Linked DNA regions of Homo sapiens: region 2 is linked to region 1. The links come from fine-mapping of genetic effects on gene expression. A gene starts in region 1. The other region holds a variant in brackets. All regions are shown on one strand. Distances are between the middles of the regions. Region 1 holds the start of S100A10 (S100 calcium binding protein A10). Region 2 overlaps THEM4 (thioesterase superfamily member 4).

Region 1 (8,335 bases):
CCTGCTCAGCAAGTGATTTTCCTCCATACAGTGATTCAGGTACCCAGGCTCTTTCCAATTATGACTCTTCCATCCTTAGAGCCTTGGAGTCCTGTCAGGTGGAGAGAAAGAATATGGGAAAGTCACCTCTTTACTGCCTTGGCCTGCAAGTGACACATATCACTTCCAGTCCCATTGTGTTGGTGGCTAGTCACATAGTCCTACCTAGGGGTATGAGGTGGTAGAAATATAATCCCTAGCTGAGCGGCCAAAACTCTACACAATGAAAAGAGGAACACACATTTCTGGTAGATAGCCCACCTTCTGTGCCACAGCCACAAACCCAAAAAAGTTGAGGGTAATAGGATTTTGTGGCTGTGCCACATGGAGAAGTGGTAAAATTCCCAATACTGCCTCACTAGTGGATCAATCTCTCCAGCTCCCAACATTTTGTACATTGGAACCTACTTCAGCCCTGGTAGAAGATTTGAACATTGCTTTCTCATCATTTCAGAGACCACATGGATGGGGCCTCTGCTCTCATTCCTCCAGTGGCCATTCAGTTGGCTACCCTCCTGCTAAGACACTATCCTTGCTGGGCAGCTCAGGCTTAGGCACTGGTCCCTGATGCCATCAGTTTTCTCTAGGGAAGCAGAGCTGGCTTCACTGAATGCATGTAGTTGACAAGGTATAACTACTTCCTGGAGAAAGAACTGCCTGGGACCCCTTTTCCTAGAGAGACTATAAGCATGGCTGATACTTGAAGCTTTATGGACCTGCTAGTACACAGAGTCATTAAGAAACCACATGAGGCCAGGAAGAGCAAGGTGTGCTGACCATTTTCATCACTGTATTCCCAGTACTCAGCACAATGTTTTAGAAACCCTGCAGCATCCTCCTGGAGATGCACCCACTAGGGCCTTAGAGTTCTGCTGGCAGATTGGAGAAGAGAGAAAAAAGAAGACACAGTACAGTACAGTTGAACAGTTACTTGTCAAATAAAAAGGTGAAAAGAATGATTTAAATGAATAAACATATGATCTTGATAAATATTTAGTAACATAGGAAAGAGTAAGAACAAAAGGAAAAAGTATGGGACAAAAATAGAAACAGTCATGTGTCGCTTAATGATGAGGATACGTTCTGAGAAATGTGCCCTTACACGATTTCATCCTGCAATCATCATAGAATGTACTTGTACAAACCTAGATGGCATAGTCTACTACACAGCTAGGCTGTATGGTACAGTCGAGGACTCTGAGGCTACAACCCTGAATAGCATACTGTAGGCAATTGTACTACAATGGTAAGTATTTGTGTACCTAAACATGGAAAAAGTGTAGTAAAAATATGGTATAAAAGATTTAAAATGCTATACAAATAGGACACTTACCATGAATGGAACTTGCAGGACTGGAAGTTGCTCTGGGTGAGTCAGTGAGTAGTGAGTGAATGTGAGGGCCTAGGACATTACTGTACATTACTGTAGACTTTAGAAACACTGTACACTTAAGGCTACACTATGTTTAAAACAGTTTTTCTTTTATCAATGATAAATTAACCTAGCCAGATGCAGTGGCTAATGCCTATAATCCCAACACTTTGGGAGGCCAAGATGGGTGAATCACATGAGGCCAAGAGTTCGAGACCAGCCCGGTCAACATGGTGAAACCTCATCTCTACTAAAAAAAACAAAAATTAGCCAGGCGCTGTGGGACATGCCTGTAATCCCAGGTACTCGAGTGGCTGAGGGACAAGAAGCACTTGAACCCGGGAGGCGGAGGTTGCAGTGAACAGAGATCACACTGCTATGCTCTAGCCTGGGCGACAGAGGGAGCCCCTGTCTCAAAAAACCAAAATAATAATAACAAATTAACCTTAGATTACTGTAAATTTACGTTATAAACTTGGAAATTCCTTTTTCTTTCCTTTTTCTTTTTTTTTTTTTTTTTGAAATGGAGTCTCACTCTGTCTCCAGGCTGGAGTGCACTGCCACAATCTCGGCTCACTGCAACCTCCGCCTCCCGGGTTCAAGCGATTCTCCTGCCTCAGCCTCCCAAGCAGCTGGGAGTACAGGTGCGTGCCACCACGCCCGGCTAGTTCTTTCTCTGTAAGATGGGGTTTCACCACGTTGGCCAGGATGGTCTTGACCTGTTGACCTCGTGATCCGCCCGCCTCGGCCTCCCAAAGTGCTGGGATTACAGGTGTGAGCTACCACGCCCAGCCTAACTTGTAAATTCTTTAAATGTTTGACTCTTTTGTAATAACACTTAGCTTAAAGCACACATTATACAACTGTAGAAAATATTTTCTTTCTTTATATCCTTCTTATGTAAGTTTTTTCTATTTTTAAAATTTTTATTTTTTTTTAAGTTTTTTGTTAAAAACTAAGACACACACACACAAAAAAAAAAAAAAAAACTAAGACACAAACACACGTATTAGCCTAGACCTGCACAGGGTCAGGATCATCAATATAACTGTCTTTCACTTCCACATCTGGTCCCACTGAAAGGTCTCCAGGGCAAAAACACACATCTCCTGTGATAACAATGACTTCTTCTGGAATACCCCCTGAAAGACCTGCCTGAGGCTGTTTTTTAAACTTTTTTTTAAGTTTTACTGTTTTTTTAATAAGTAGAAGGAATACACTCTAAAATAATGATGAAAAGTATAGTGTAGTAAATACATAATGCAGTAACAGTCATTTATTACCATTATCAAGTATTGCATACTACACATAATTGGTATGTGCTATATTTTTATACAACTGGCAGCACAGTAGTTTGTTTACACCAGCATCACCACAAACACATGAGTAAAGTATTGCGCTAGACAGCTACAAGGTCACTAGGCAACTGGAATTTTTTTAGCTCTATTATAATCTTATGGAACCACTGCTGAATACATGATCCATCGTTGGCTCAAACACTGTTATGCAGTGAATGACTGTACTTAATTTTATAATCAGTATGATCACAATTATGCAAATATTTGTTACATATGCATAAAAAGACTAGAAATATGAAAATGTTTATCTTTGGCTCATGTATTTATAAATCATTTTTTATACATTGATATATTTTCCAAGCCTTCTAAGAATGGAATCTTTGTACAGATTAAAAAGTTACAATAAGTGTTATTGTTGTTTTTAAATTTCTACCCAATGTTGCTTCCTGCAGAAATTATTCTGTGACCACTCCAAGAGGACTTGGAAGCCCCTCCTCAGTGTTCTCCTAGTATCCAATAGTATCCTCTACCATTCACTAAGCACACTGGATTTTAATTGTTTGCTTATCTAACGCCCAATACTTGGAACTCTTCAGAGAAAGAGACTGATTCTCTAATCCCTGAATTCCCAGGCCTACCACATACACTAAAGCACTCCTAAGGTCTGTGGACCAGATGAAGAAATCAGATGAGTAGGGGTACGCAAACCCAGGCATTCCCATTCTAAACCCAGTCGCATTGCAATCCCTGCAACAAAAGGGATCCGAGATTTCCTCCACTGGTGACTGTGACCTGGGGACTGGGAAGTACTGTATACAGGAAGATCTTGAAGAGCTGTCCCCTTGAATAGTCAGCACCAGGGTTGCACGGAAAGTAATAGCTGAAATCCAAGTTGGGTTTTCCTGGCAACAGCCAATATTAGTCAGAGGTGGCACTTGGAGGATTCCCCAGGTCTGCTCATTCCTTTAGGATCATTCATTCCTCCCAAGGCCTCCCTTGGGAACAAAGGAAAACCCCAGAGTTTGGGATTGGGCTCTTTTCCACCAACAGCTGCTAGTAGTTTGTATTTAACCCTGAGTCACAATTAAAATAAAAGAGGGCGGGCGGGGGAGGGGCGAGGAGTTGGTAAGCATCCCCTAGGAAACACTTAGGTTTTCTCTAAATTTATTCCAGAAAATTCTTCTAAAGGACTTTTCAAGGACCACAGCATACTGCCTTGGAAACTTAGTTTTTAACCTTTTTCTTTTCTTTTTTTCTTTTTTCTTTTTTTTTTTTTTTTTTGAGACAGAGTCTCACTCTGTCACCCAGGCTGGAGTGCAGTGGTGCGATCTCGGCTCACTGCAACCTCTGTCTCCCAGGTTCAAGCGATTCTCATGCCTCAGTCTCCTGGGATTACAGGCGCGCATCACCACTCCCGGCTAATTTTTGTATCAGTAGAGACAAGGTTTCACCATGTTGGCTAAGCTGGTGTTGAACTCCTGACCTGAGGTGATCCGCCCGCCTCGGCCTCCCAAAGTGTTGGGATTACAGGCGTGAGCCACCGCGCCCGGCCAGTTTTTAACACTATTAGCCACACTGAAACTGAACTATTGATCAAGTGACGCCACACAAAGGGGTAAATCCCCTGTTCAACAAAGGGTTTGTGACGCCCCTGGGTGCTGACAAGCCAAACCGCACCCTCCCTGCGGCACCTCGCGGGCCGGTGGGGCGGGAAGCCCGGCTTCTGGGGAGGTGCCGCCCCTCCACTGGCGCAGGCCGCCGAGACCCCCAGACGGACCTCCTAGGGCTAATCTGATAGTGCCTCTGAGGTCGATAGGACTCCACGTGCCACTCCCTGCAGGGTCATCCAGCAAGTAATTCCTAGACCCGTAGGTGGCCGCAGAGCCGGTTACCTCTGGTTCTGCGCCAGCGTGCCCCACCCGCAGGACGGCCGGGTTCTTTGATTTGTACACTTTCTAAAACCAAACCCGAGAGGAAGGGCAGGCTCAGGGTGGGGATGCCCTGAAATATTCGAGAGCAGGACCGTTTCTACTGAAGAGAAGTTTACAAGAACGCTCTGTCTGGGGCGGGCGAGGCCTCTGCGAGGCGGGTCCGGGAGCGAGGGCAGGGCGTGGGCCGCGCGCCCGGGGTCGGGGGAGTCGGGGGCAGGAAGAGGGGGAGGAGACAGGGCTGGGGGAGCGCCCTGCCGAGCGCCCGCCAGGCTCCTCCCGCTCCCGCGCCGCCTCCCTCTACCCACCCGCCGCACGTACTAAGGAAGGCGCACAGCCCGCCGCGCTCGCCTCTCCGCCCCGCGTCCAGCTCGCCCAGCTCGCCCAGCGTCCGCCGCGCCTCGGCCAAGGTGAGCTCCGCCCGGCCCACGCGCCCCTCCTGGGTAGTCCCCAGGCCCGGACCTGCTGCCCGGGGAAAACCCTGCACCCGGCTTCGCGGGGCGTCCGGAGCACCGCGGGGCTGGGCGGGGAGCGGCTGGTGGGGAATCCGCTGCTCAGTGCTCCGGGCCACACCCAAACGAGGCCAGCAGCGCCCCTCCCCGGCCCGGGCGCGGCCGCCCCCAGACCCACGCGGACCAGAGGAGGGGGCACTTGTTCTTTAGGAGGGGACCGTGGTATTGGTGCGCCTGAACCTCTTCCCTCCTCCCTTTATGTTTGCGTTGCTTTACTCCCACCTTTCCTACTTTCCCACTCGTCTCTCGGGTTACCGAATCCCTCCTACACGCCCCTGCCCTGGCTGGCGTGTTTCTTGGTGGGTTCCGCTCGCAGGCCGGGTCTGCATGTTCGTAGCCTGCTCCCGGCTGTACCGCCCAAGTAGGCGCGGGTAGGACGAGTAGGCAGCTGGGGCGTCCCTTCCGTAACCCTTAGTCCGTCGGCCAAACAGGCGTTTCTGGTCGGGGCTTCCTGTTGTCTGCTCGACGGAAAGGGTCTTCCTGCTGAGGGAGGGAGGTCCACTTGTTTTCTTTCTACAGCAGTTTGGCTGGGGTTTGTGGGAGAGGGCCCTGTGTGACGTGGTTTCTCTACTGAAAGGGTTCCCTTGCTGTCTTAATAAGTGGAACCAGAAAGAGATGGAGGAAGAGCAGGCTTGATGAAGGATCTTCCAATCATAGATTAATTTGGCCCGGTGCAGTGAAACAGACAGACGTGCCTTTGGTACTTGGTTCACCACCTGTGCTTTGGCCGAAGGAATGGCGCTGCCCCTAGCCGTGGACACTGCTGCCTGTCCAGCCTCAGTCCAGCTCTGCCTAAGTGAAACCAGGAGCTCTGCCTTGTTGGCTGGGGTGGAATGCAGAGCGCTCCAAGCCAGGCCAGCACAGGGGAGCCCTAAGCCAGATTCTGGGATGCATTAAGCCCACCCCGTTTTCTGCCCCCACCCAGTTCCGTCTCTGCGGGAGCTTCTGCAGGGCGTGGTTAGCACAAAGGGCTCCAGGATTCTCCCAGTGGTCTGAGGCCTGTGACTCAGCTGTGAGACCATGTGGGTGTGGCCGGTTGCAGATACTCTCGGTGGATGGTTTGGACAGAACACTCCCTGAAGGAAAAGGAGAACTGTGCCATCTCAGAGGGCATTTTCCAAGAGGAAGTGAGTCACACCTGGTCTGGCTGCCAGTCTGCAGGAGAGGTTTCTCGACTGAACTGCCGGTGAGGGCAGTAATTAGATCTGCAGGGCCTTGGCGAGACCGCTTTTCGTTATCGGCCAGTATGCGCCTGGCAGCCTGCCTCAGCCTTACTTGGGAGGTAGCTTTTCCCGCTAAGAGGTTTGCAGTTGTTGCGGATATTTTTCCCCAGAAGCTTGAGTTTCAGTCTCCAGGAATGGAGTTTTATGTTGTGCGTTTTAGGTGAGGCCAGGCTCATGGAAACACCCAGTCGGTGATCTTTGCCTCCAACATGTTTCAGCAAATTGCAAAAGATAATGCCAGGGGTTGGAGTGGGAATGAGTTCATATAACTTATTGGAAGTTTCTTCATCGGCCCTGCCCCCACAGATTCCTATCCAGTTTCTCTTTAATCATCCCTTCCAAATGGTGTATTTGTTCCTTCACAGCCAGAGGATAGTTTCTTCACTGTGGCCCTTGATCCACCATTTGGAGTTTCTTATCTAGGTTCTTACAATTTTTTTGGTCTACTGGGCATGAAGCAATTTTTGGGTCTTACCCTGCTTTCTGGGTGATGCTCTTCCTAGCTTTTCTCCGACACATCATATAGGCCCCTTTCCTCCCGTGTGCTGGCCAGCCTCCTAAGCAGCCACTCCAGTGAGGTCAGGGTGGAGCTGAGACTGTGTGCCTCCCTGCTTTCTACTGACAGTTCAAAAAATGTGACTTTTGTAGAGCACAACCCACTTGGTATACCCTTGGACACAGTCCAGTCTTTTAAAGCGTAAAGTTGAGAGAAACAATGGAATTCTTTCAGGATTATAATGTATAAATTAGCACTCAAAGTGCTGAGAAAGCTGGACTAAAATTTTAACATCTTAAGTTTCTCATTTTTCTGGGGACTCAACAAATTTAGGAATCCACATCAAAAGCAAAAAGAAAGAATGTACTTCTTTTAAACAATTTTCAGCACTTTCTATCCCTTTACTAAATAAATACCACCCATCCTACCAAAGGATTTAACTAAAAGCAGTTTTGACAGTAGCTATGTTGGCTGATTAGGCTGATGCCTAAGCATTCTTTAAGGAAAAATTGATGTAGTTGGTTAGATTGAAGGAGGTTTCTTCCAAGTTCTTTCTTCCTATTGAATTGCATCTGAAACGTTCCTTTGCTGCCCAGTTCTTTAGTGGGCAAGTTTTAGTTGGTGAGAGGTGAGAGAGACAGCCTGGATCCAGATCCATTGCTTCAACTCATTTTTTCTGAATTCCCTTCAGAGATCAAATTTAAGAATGCCTTCTGGGTTCAATTTTAAAAACTCCAAAATTTCTAAAGCAAAAGGAAGGAAACCTCAAACATATTTTAAATAACAGATGTTTGTTTTTACTGACACCCTGCCGTTTATTTTCTGGGTGGGCTGTAAGAAAACTAGGGTATGGACAAGACACAGAGGAGCAAAGCAAGTCCGACTCACTCTGCAGAAGTGTCCTCTTTGAAACTGCAGCCGGGATCTGGGCATAGGTCCAAAGCAAACATTTGAGATTTTTCAGGAGCAGACACTTTTCTGAGGAGGACTCCTGCTTGTCTGCTACTCGCAGGACAACCAAAATACATCATTATCAATTTCTTAACAATTCATCGAGCAGGCTCTATGAGGGCTGGGGCACTGGCTATTGGGACCCTGCTCAAAAAACCTGCAACCTAGTGAGGAAAGAAACAGAAACACAAATAACTAGAATTCAGGCCAAATGCTTTAATAGTATTCCATTAGCTGGTGAACTCCTCAAAGGCAAGCACCATGGAGAGCTTTGTGTGTGTGTGCATGTGTGTATGTGTGTGTGAACACCCTCATGCCTAACACCATGTCTGGGACATTCAAAGTAGGTGCTCAGGGAGGGAGAACCAAAAATGGAAAATTGAATTCCTCCTAAGGTAACTAAATTTGTGGAGTCCAGAATTGTTTTCCATAGAGAAAACTATGCAGAGAAAGATGTCTCCGCCTCCCTTCTTAAGACCTGTTGCTCAGACAAACATGTAGAGGGCATGTATAGGC
Region 2 (8,335 bases), 100 kb after region 1:
AGCAATTCCTATCCTTCTGTGTTTTTTTACTAATATACTTTTTTAGCATTATAATTTTATAGAAAAATTAGCCTAAAGTACAGAGAGTTCCCATATACCCTTTATCCCCTCCCCACCCCTAATTTCTCCTATTATTAACATCTCACATTACTGTGGTGTATTTGTTACAATTGATGAGCCAATATTAATATATTATTCTTAATTAAGGTCCATAGTTTGTTTTAGGGTTCACTCTTCGTATTATGTTTTCCGTGGGTTTTAACAACTGTGTAATGACAGATATCCATCATTATAGTATATTTGAATCATTCACAGATATTTCTGAGTTACTCATTATCTTTTAATCATCCAAACACATCTTTAGGTGGTGGTTGGTTTTTTTTAACTGACTTTTAAGAAGGCCCTTGGGCCAGGCACCGTGGCTCATGCCTATAATCCCAGCACTTTGGGAGACTGAAGCGGGCGGATCACTTGAGGTCAGGGGTTTAAGACCAGCCTGGCCAACATGGTGAAACCTCGTCTCTACTAAAAATACAAAAAAAATTAGTTGGGCCTCGTGGCGGGGACCTGTAATTCCAGCTACTTGGGAGGCTGAGGCAGAAGAATTATTTGAATCCAGGAGGCAGAGGTTGCAGTGAGCTGAGATCGCGCCACTGCACTCCATCCTGGGCAACAGAGTGAGACTGTCTCCCCCCCTACAAAAAAAAAAAGAGAAAAAGAAGGCTCTCAATATTGCCCAACAACCATACTTCATGTTTCCCTAGTTTATTCACTCTCCTCCCTTACTGGATGAGTATTTTCTGCCTTTTTCTTTCTTCTTATGCCTCTAATACTTTCCCTTCTCACCCTCAGTTGGTCTCGCTTCCTATCTCACTAAGAGAAAATAAAAGCAGTCAGAAGAGAACTCCCAGTCTCCCATTGCCTCACATATCCTCCCCCCTGCATCTGTGCCTGATGTTCTGCTTCTTCCTGCTGTGAGTGAACCATCCACACTCTTAGGGAGACCAAGCCTTCCATTTGTGCGCTGCATTCCATTTTCTTTGGCCTACTGAAGGACATCCATCTCTGCTAGATGTTTCGTATCAGCATATAAACATGCCACAACTGCATTTCTCTCTTCCCAGTCTCTCTCTCTCTCTCTCTTTTGTTTTGGGTTTTTTTGTTTTGTTGTTTTTTTGTTTTTTTTGTTTTTGGTTTTGAGAATGAGTCTCACTGAGTCACTCAGGCTGGAATGCAGTGGCGTGACCTCGGCTCACTGCAACCTCCTCCTCCCGGGTTCAAGTGATTCTCCCACCTCAACCTCTCAAGTAGCTGGGATTACAGGTGCATGCCACCACACCCAGCTTATTTTTATATTTTTAATAGAGACAGGGTTTCACAATGTTGGCCGGGCTGGTCTCGAACTCCTAAATTCAAGTGATCTGCCCCACCTTGGCCTCCCAAAGTGCGGGGATTACAGGCATGAGCCACTGTGCCCAGCCTATCTTGAACCCACTCCCTCAAAACAGCTCTTGCCAAAGGTACCAGTGACCTTCATGTTGCTGAGTCCGCTAACCTCTCAGCTTTTGGCACAGCTGTTGACTCCTTTCTGTTTGAACATAACTTCTAGGACACCACATTCTCCACTTCACTGGTGCCTCCTTTTCAGTTTCTTGGGCTGGCTCTTCCCCATCCTCAAACCCTTCATGTTGGGGTGCCCTCAAGTCTCAGTCCTTAGTACTCCTCTCTTCTCCACACTCCATTGGTAATCTCATGCAGTCTCTCAGCTTTAGAGACCATCCAGAAGTTGACAACTTCTTAATTAAATGGTTGAAATTTAGTGCCTGGGTTCAAATTCTGGTTCCACAATTTAAAGCTGTGCAACTTTGAGCAAGGCACTTTACCTTTCTGTGCCTCAGTTTCCTCATGGTAGATACTTTAGTATTTGCTGAAGGAATGAATAAAACAAAAATAAAACTAATCAAGAAAAATTATAGAGTTCTTAAGTTTCTTTGCAGAATCTCTGATATATCTCGAGGGAAGAATTATTCTGTTTTATAAATGAAGAGGAAAAATGTGTAGTTTGTATTACTTATTCTCTTCCAACTGTTAGCACATCACACAACTGACTGTCCTTATCCCAGCACAATCTGGCTTCTACCCTCACAGCTCTACTGAAATGTCTTCATTGAAGCCACTAGTGACGGAAGTGCCAAATTCAGTGTGCATTCTTCAGCACTTACTGTACTAGACCTCCCTGTCTCATTCTCATTGAAACATTTTCTTTTGGCTTTCATAAACCTTTCAGACCAATCTTCCCTCCTCCTTCTACTTGCTCCTTAAATGTCAATGTTTTCCAGGGTTCCATTCCTACATTTTGCTCATTTCTTCATCCAACCCTCATTCGCTCTTGACTAAAATTTGACCCTCTCAGAATCAAGAGGAGTTTGAGATCCTCTTTGCTACCCACACTTGTTTTCAAACCATTACTTCCCCTCATCTTAAAAAGCCCTCTGGGCTGGGCACAGTGGCTCAACACTTTGGGAGGCCAAAGTGGCAGATCACTTGAGGCCAGGAGTTTGAGACAAGCCTGGGTGACAGAGCAAGATTCTGTCTCAAAAAAAAACAAAAACAAAAAACCTCTGTTTCTTTGAGTTTATACCATCTAACTTTGTCACCCTCCTCTTCTTCTCCTCCTTGTTGCTGTCATCTGTCAACCTCTCCCTCAGTGTTGAGTATTTCAGCAGCTGGTCCGCTATCTACCCAACTCCATTCAGCATCCTCAGCAACTCGAGCATCTACACAGTGGCTCCTCAGTTTATGTGCTTCCTCATCACCTATGAACTTTTCTTATCCCCCAGCCCCAGCCACACACTGCCATGAACATCTCGAGCCTTATCTTCAGACAGTACACAGCCTCCAAATGCATACATTTAAACATCCTGTTTTCTGATGACAGCATTTTTCCTTTCAGCAGCTTACTTGTTCAAAGGCCCCTCAGAAACAATTGTTATTTCATTAAGACCTTCTGAGTTCATTGAATCCTTTACTTTCTCATGGTCCAATAGCCCTCATCTATCTGAACTTTTGTAGCCCACCTAACCTAGGAAAACCCCAGCCCTGGATGAATCCAACCATCTGCCATCTTTACTTTGAACTGGCTTTCACATAGTTAAGCATTGCTAGAGAAAATCACCCCATCTAGCAGATAAGTTTGGTGATTGTGATTTTTGTAGTTTCATCTCCTGTCTCCATTCTTATCCTCCTCAAAGCCCTTCTTCCACTCAACTGTCAGAATGATTCAAAATGCAAATCTCATCATGTTATTCCAATGCTATTTTCAGTGCTATCCCATTTCTTAAAATACTCTTGCCTTTCAGACTTAAAAATGAATATGAAGCACCTAGGAATCTTGTTAAAATGCAAGTTCTGCTTCAGAAGGTCAGAAGTAGAACCTGAGATTCTGCATTTCCAACAAACTTCTTTCACCATCACAAAGGACAAACACATCCTCTTGAGAGTAGTAGCTTTTGGTCTTTATTTTGAAATGACCTACATTTTAACTCAACCCAGACCTTATTTTTCTCATTTTTATGAAATAAGCTCAAGGTTTGCCAATCTAGACCAGAAATCTCAAACTCCTAAGTAAAACAATTATAAGCACTTAACACCTATCTTATCCTGAAGTCCTGGAATGTCAGAGTTGGAAGAGATCTTAGAGCTCATTTTGTTTTATCTCCTCATTGTATGGATAAAGTGTAGTGCAAAAGAGTGAGTTCTAGGCCAGAGGTAGGCCAATAATTTAATTTTCCCAACTCACGGGCCAAGGTTCTTTCCACTGCACCATAATACTGATCCCCAATTTTAAGGTTCCTTGTCTGTCCTTCTAAACCATCAATTCACTCAACAACTGCTTAAGTGTATATAGTATGTGCACATCTGTGCCATTTGTTGGGTATGCAAAGTCTAAAAGACAGGGTGCCTGCCCTGAGATGCTCATGACCTAATTCAAATGCATCCTTCCTGTCCCTCTCCCCACTTCTCCTGGATCTTCTCATCTGTATCTTTTTCCACGTTTGTAAATATAAATTCAATAGAAATAAACAGTTTTATATATGGCAAATCATGATGAGCTATGAAAGAAAGGTGAGTAGGGGGATTAAATTTTAAAATAGATACAAAAGGATAAATGCACTATTTCTTGAGAGCAATGGCTTTCAATCTTTATTTTGAAGTGACCTATATTTTGATTCAATCCAGTTCCCCCAACTTGCTCACAATTGTGTAAGTGAAAAAAAACTGTGTCTAAACAAGTGCACTATTACTTACCCAGAGTATATGGTTCTGTTAACTAAGTGTTCTGTTTCTTTTTAAAGCCTGGTTAATGGCCGGGCGCTGTGGCTCACGCCTATAATCCCAGCACTTTGGGAGGCCAAGGCAGGCGGATCCCTGAGTTCGGGAGTTCAAGACCAGCCTGACCAACACGGAGAAACCCCGTCTCTACTAAAAATACAGAATTAGTCAGGCGTGGTGGTGGGCGCCTGTAATCCCAGCTACTCAGGAGGCTGAGGCAGGAGAATCGCTTGAACCCGGGAGGCGGAGGTTGCGGTGAGCTGAGATCACGCCATTGCACTACAGCCTGGGCAATAAGAGTGAAACTCTGTCAAAAAAAAAAAAAAAAAAAAAGAAGCCTGGTTACAACCCACAATCTGATTTCATGAACCCTAATGGTT[C/T]TCACTGCCAGTTTTGGGGGCTTAGAGTCACAATCACTTGAGTGTTGGGCTGAACTGACCCTGTTGCTGATTCAGACTCAACTCATGTCTGCCAGGGAAACCTCCTTTCTGTTACATTTTTTATTTTCTGTAAATTGCATTTAAACCACAGTTCTTCCAAGAAGGATTTCCGTCTTTACCGTACCATTTTATTCAGTATATTGTTAGCGTTTATATACTATATTCCTGATTGCCATGTGTGGGTACTTCATTTTGATTTCATGTCTGTTTACTCTGTCCCCAGTTGGACTGTTAATTCCACAAGGGCAAAGATCCTATCTTCTGTTTCATTGAGACGCTCCCATTCCTTTCAATTTTGCACCCTGTGGACATTTGAATCAATCATCTATTGACATGTGATTCTAGCAGGGTACAGGTGCTTGGCTCTGCCATGGCATTTCTCTCACCCTTGTTTCTCATTTGCCATCCACCTCATTTTCTATAGACCCAAAGCTTATGAAAGAAGAACAAATGTCACAGGCCCAGCTCTTCACCAGAAGCTTTGATGATGGCCTGGGCTTTGAATACGTGATGTTCTACAATGACATTGAGAAAAGGATGGTTTGCTTATTTCAAGGAGGCCCTTACCTGGAAGGACCACCTGGGTAAGAATGATAGCCTGAAAGTGTGGATCTAAAAGATTTTTATCTTACACTGCCCCCATGTGTCCTGTACATGGACTACAATAAAGATTTTCAAATGGTCACATAGATGTATATTTATTGACATGGAAAGATGTTTATAATACATTATTAAAGGACATCTTATCTATATTATTAATATTGATTAAATATTTTTATATATGAGCATTATAATATTATAGGGCATAGGGCAATAGAGTATAATTTGAGAGCATATCATTAATGTGTTAACAGTGGCTTGTCACTGACTAGGTGGGTAGTATTATGGGTCCTAAATTTTTTTCTTTTTTTTCATATTTGCATTACCTACATTTCTAAACAATGAATATGTATAGTTTGTTTTGTTTTGTGAGACAAGGCCTTGCTCCTTTGCCCAGGCTGAAGTGCAGTGGCATAATCATAGCTCACTGCAGCCTCGAACTCCTGGGCTCAAGCAATCCTCTCACCTCAGTCTCCCGAGTAGCCAGAACTACAGGCACATGACACCACACTTGACTAATAATAAAAACATAATATAAATTTTCTAAATTACATTTTAGCTTTTTGCTTGCTTGCGATCTGGTTACTATTAAGTTCTGGTTTTATTACAAATACTTAAGACTATATTATTATGCTGTGAACAAAACAAAGTTGGGGACATAGATAGTATTTGGCATTCAGTACACTGAACATGGGCTAAGTGGACCTTTCATAAGTAAATAGTGTGAAGATGCTTGGATAATTTTTCTCTTTCAAGAGGCTCTCTATCTTCAGAACTTCTGAAAACATTTCTCCTCCACTCCTGTTGTAACTAGATTCATTCATGGAGGTGCCATTGCAACCATGATTGATGCTACTGTTGGTATGTGTGCAATGATGGCTGGGGGAATCGTCATGACTGCCAATCTCAACATCAATTATAAAAGGTAAATTCACAGTAATTCTCTATTTATCCTTAGGTGTTGTTAAGTCAGGTTCCCAGTTGCAGATCTTGACACCATAATTTGTGTTCAAGTGATTATTAAGGAAGTGCTCCCAGAGGAGACTAGCAAGGGAGTGGGAGAAGCAGGACGGGGAAGATGAAGAAGTGTCAACCAAGGCTGAACTCTCAAAAGTCCAGCAAAGCATAGCTTTAGCCAGATCATACAAGAGAGCTCTAGAATGAAATTTATGCCTCAGAATTGTCTCCATCTCAGATGAGGGAGCTAGAGTCTTTATACTCTCGCATGTATTGGTCATAGGATCAGGGCCATCCCAGGGACCATAAATTTCCAAGTACTTCTAAGGGTCTCTGTGTTTGAGCAAAGCAGACTCTAGAGAAAATAACCAAAACAAGTGAAGAAAGGATCCAAGGGGCTCTGGGTGGAGCACCAACATCTACTACATAACAAAATTAATTTTTTAAAAATTTAGCTGGGCCCAGCAGTGCACGTCTGTAGTCCTAGCTTCTTGAGAGGATTGCTTGAGCCCAGGAGTTCAAGGCTACAGTGAGCTAGGATCATGCCACTGCACTCCAGGGTGGGCAACAAGACCCCAACTGTAAAAAAAACAACAACAACAAAAACACACACACACACACAAAACACCGAGTCTTTTCAGTCCACAGGCACAGATGTCTTTCCATTTATTTGTGTCTTTAATTTTTTTCATCAATGTTTTGTAGTTTTCAGTGTATAAGACTTTTGCTCTTTGGTTAAGTTTATTCCTATGTATTTTATTCTTTTTGATTTTTTTATTTTTAATTTTTTTATTATTATTATTATTATTTTGAGACAAAGTCTCACTTTATTGCTCAGGCTGGAGTGTGGTGGCATGATCTCAGCTCATTGCAACATCCACTTCCCAGGTTCAAGCTATTCTCATGCCTCAGCCTGCCAAGTAGCTGGTATTACAGGCATGCACCACCACAGCTGGCTAATTTTTTGTATTTTCAGTAGAGACAGTGTTTCACTTTGTTGGCCAGGCTGATCTCAAACTCCTGGCCTCAAGTGATCCGCCTGCCTTGGCCTGCCAAAGTGCTGGGATTACAGATGTGAGTCACTGCACCTGGCCTTAATTGTTTTCTTAATTTCCTTTTTGGATTAGTCATTGTTTGTGTATAGAAATGCAACTGCTTTTTCTGTGTTGATTTTACATCTTGCAGCTTTGCTGAATTTGTTTATTCATTCTAACAGGTTTTTGTGGAATCTTTAGGATTTTCTATATACAAAGTCATGTCATTTGTAAACAGATCTTTGTACTTCTTCCTTTCCAATTTGAATACCTTTGATTTCTTTTTCTTGCCTAATTGCTCTGGCTAGGACTTCTAGTACCATGTAGAATAGAAGTGGCAAAAGTGGGCATCCTTGTCTTGTTTCTGATCTTAAATGAAAAGGTTTTAGTCTTTTACCATTCAGCATGATGTTAGTTGTAGGGTTTTCATAAATAGCCTTTATTATGTTGAGAGAGTTTCTTTCTATTCCTAGTTGTGCCTTAGATTTTTAACCTTTAAACCCAGATTGTCATTGTACCTCCTTTTAACAATTTTAATAGCAATTACATTGATTCTAGAGATTAATTTGGGGAAAGTTGACATATTTACAGATGGTCAATATTTCATATTAGTTATAACTATAAATTAGATTCTAGAAATCTGGGTTTTCTTAACATGTTAAAGAATATATTAAAAATTAAATTTTTTATATTTTTCCATGTCCCATGTTTTTAAAAATATTTTTCCATGTTCAAATAAAGTTGAATAATGAAGTATAACATCGTTCCTAAAAAAATAAATGTAAACGGTTACTTTGAAAACAAGCTGAAACAAAGTATTTAGATTGCTGTTTATCTCAAAAAGTGTTTGTGTCTTAAGCACATACTCAAATGCAAAATGGGAAACAGAACCTGCCAAACTCTATGCTTAGTGTTTGTCCCACCCAATAAACCATCCACAAAAATCAGTTGCATTGCTGTTCATTTGTTCCC

The links. PIP is the estimated chance that this variant, and not a neighbour inherited with it, causes the effect.
Region 2: its variant is fine-mapped to the expression of S100A10 in whole blood (TOPMed, PIP above 0.99).

The regions. Positions count from the first base shown.
Region 1 is chr1:151,990,464-151,998,798 of GRCh38, reverse strand. S100A10 (S100 calcium binding protein A10) reads left to right here and starts at 4,940. Exons shown (of 3, transcript NM_002966.3): 1 at 4,940-5,047. RefSeq lists silencers at 4,513-4,642, 4,773-4,822, 4,833-5,132 and an enhancer at 5,701-6,900.
Region 2 is chr1:151,886,235-151,894,569 of GRCh38, reverse strand. It overlaps THEM4 (thioesterase superfamily member 4), which reads left to right. Exons shown (of 6, transcript NM_053055.5): 3 at 5,197-5,356; 4 at 6,187-6,297. Among named protein-coding and RNA genes, the nearest start is that of THEM4, 19 kb to the left of the region's middle. The variant C/T (reference allele first, on the strand shown) is at 4,713.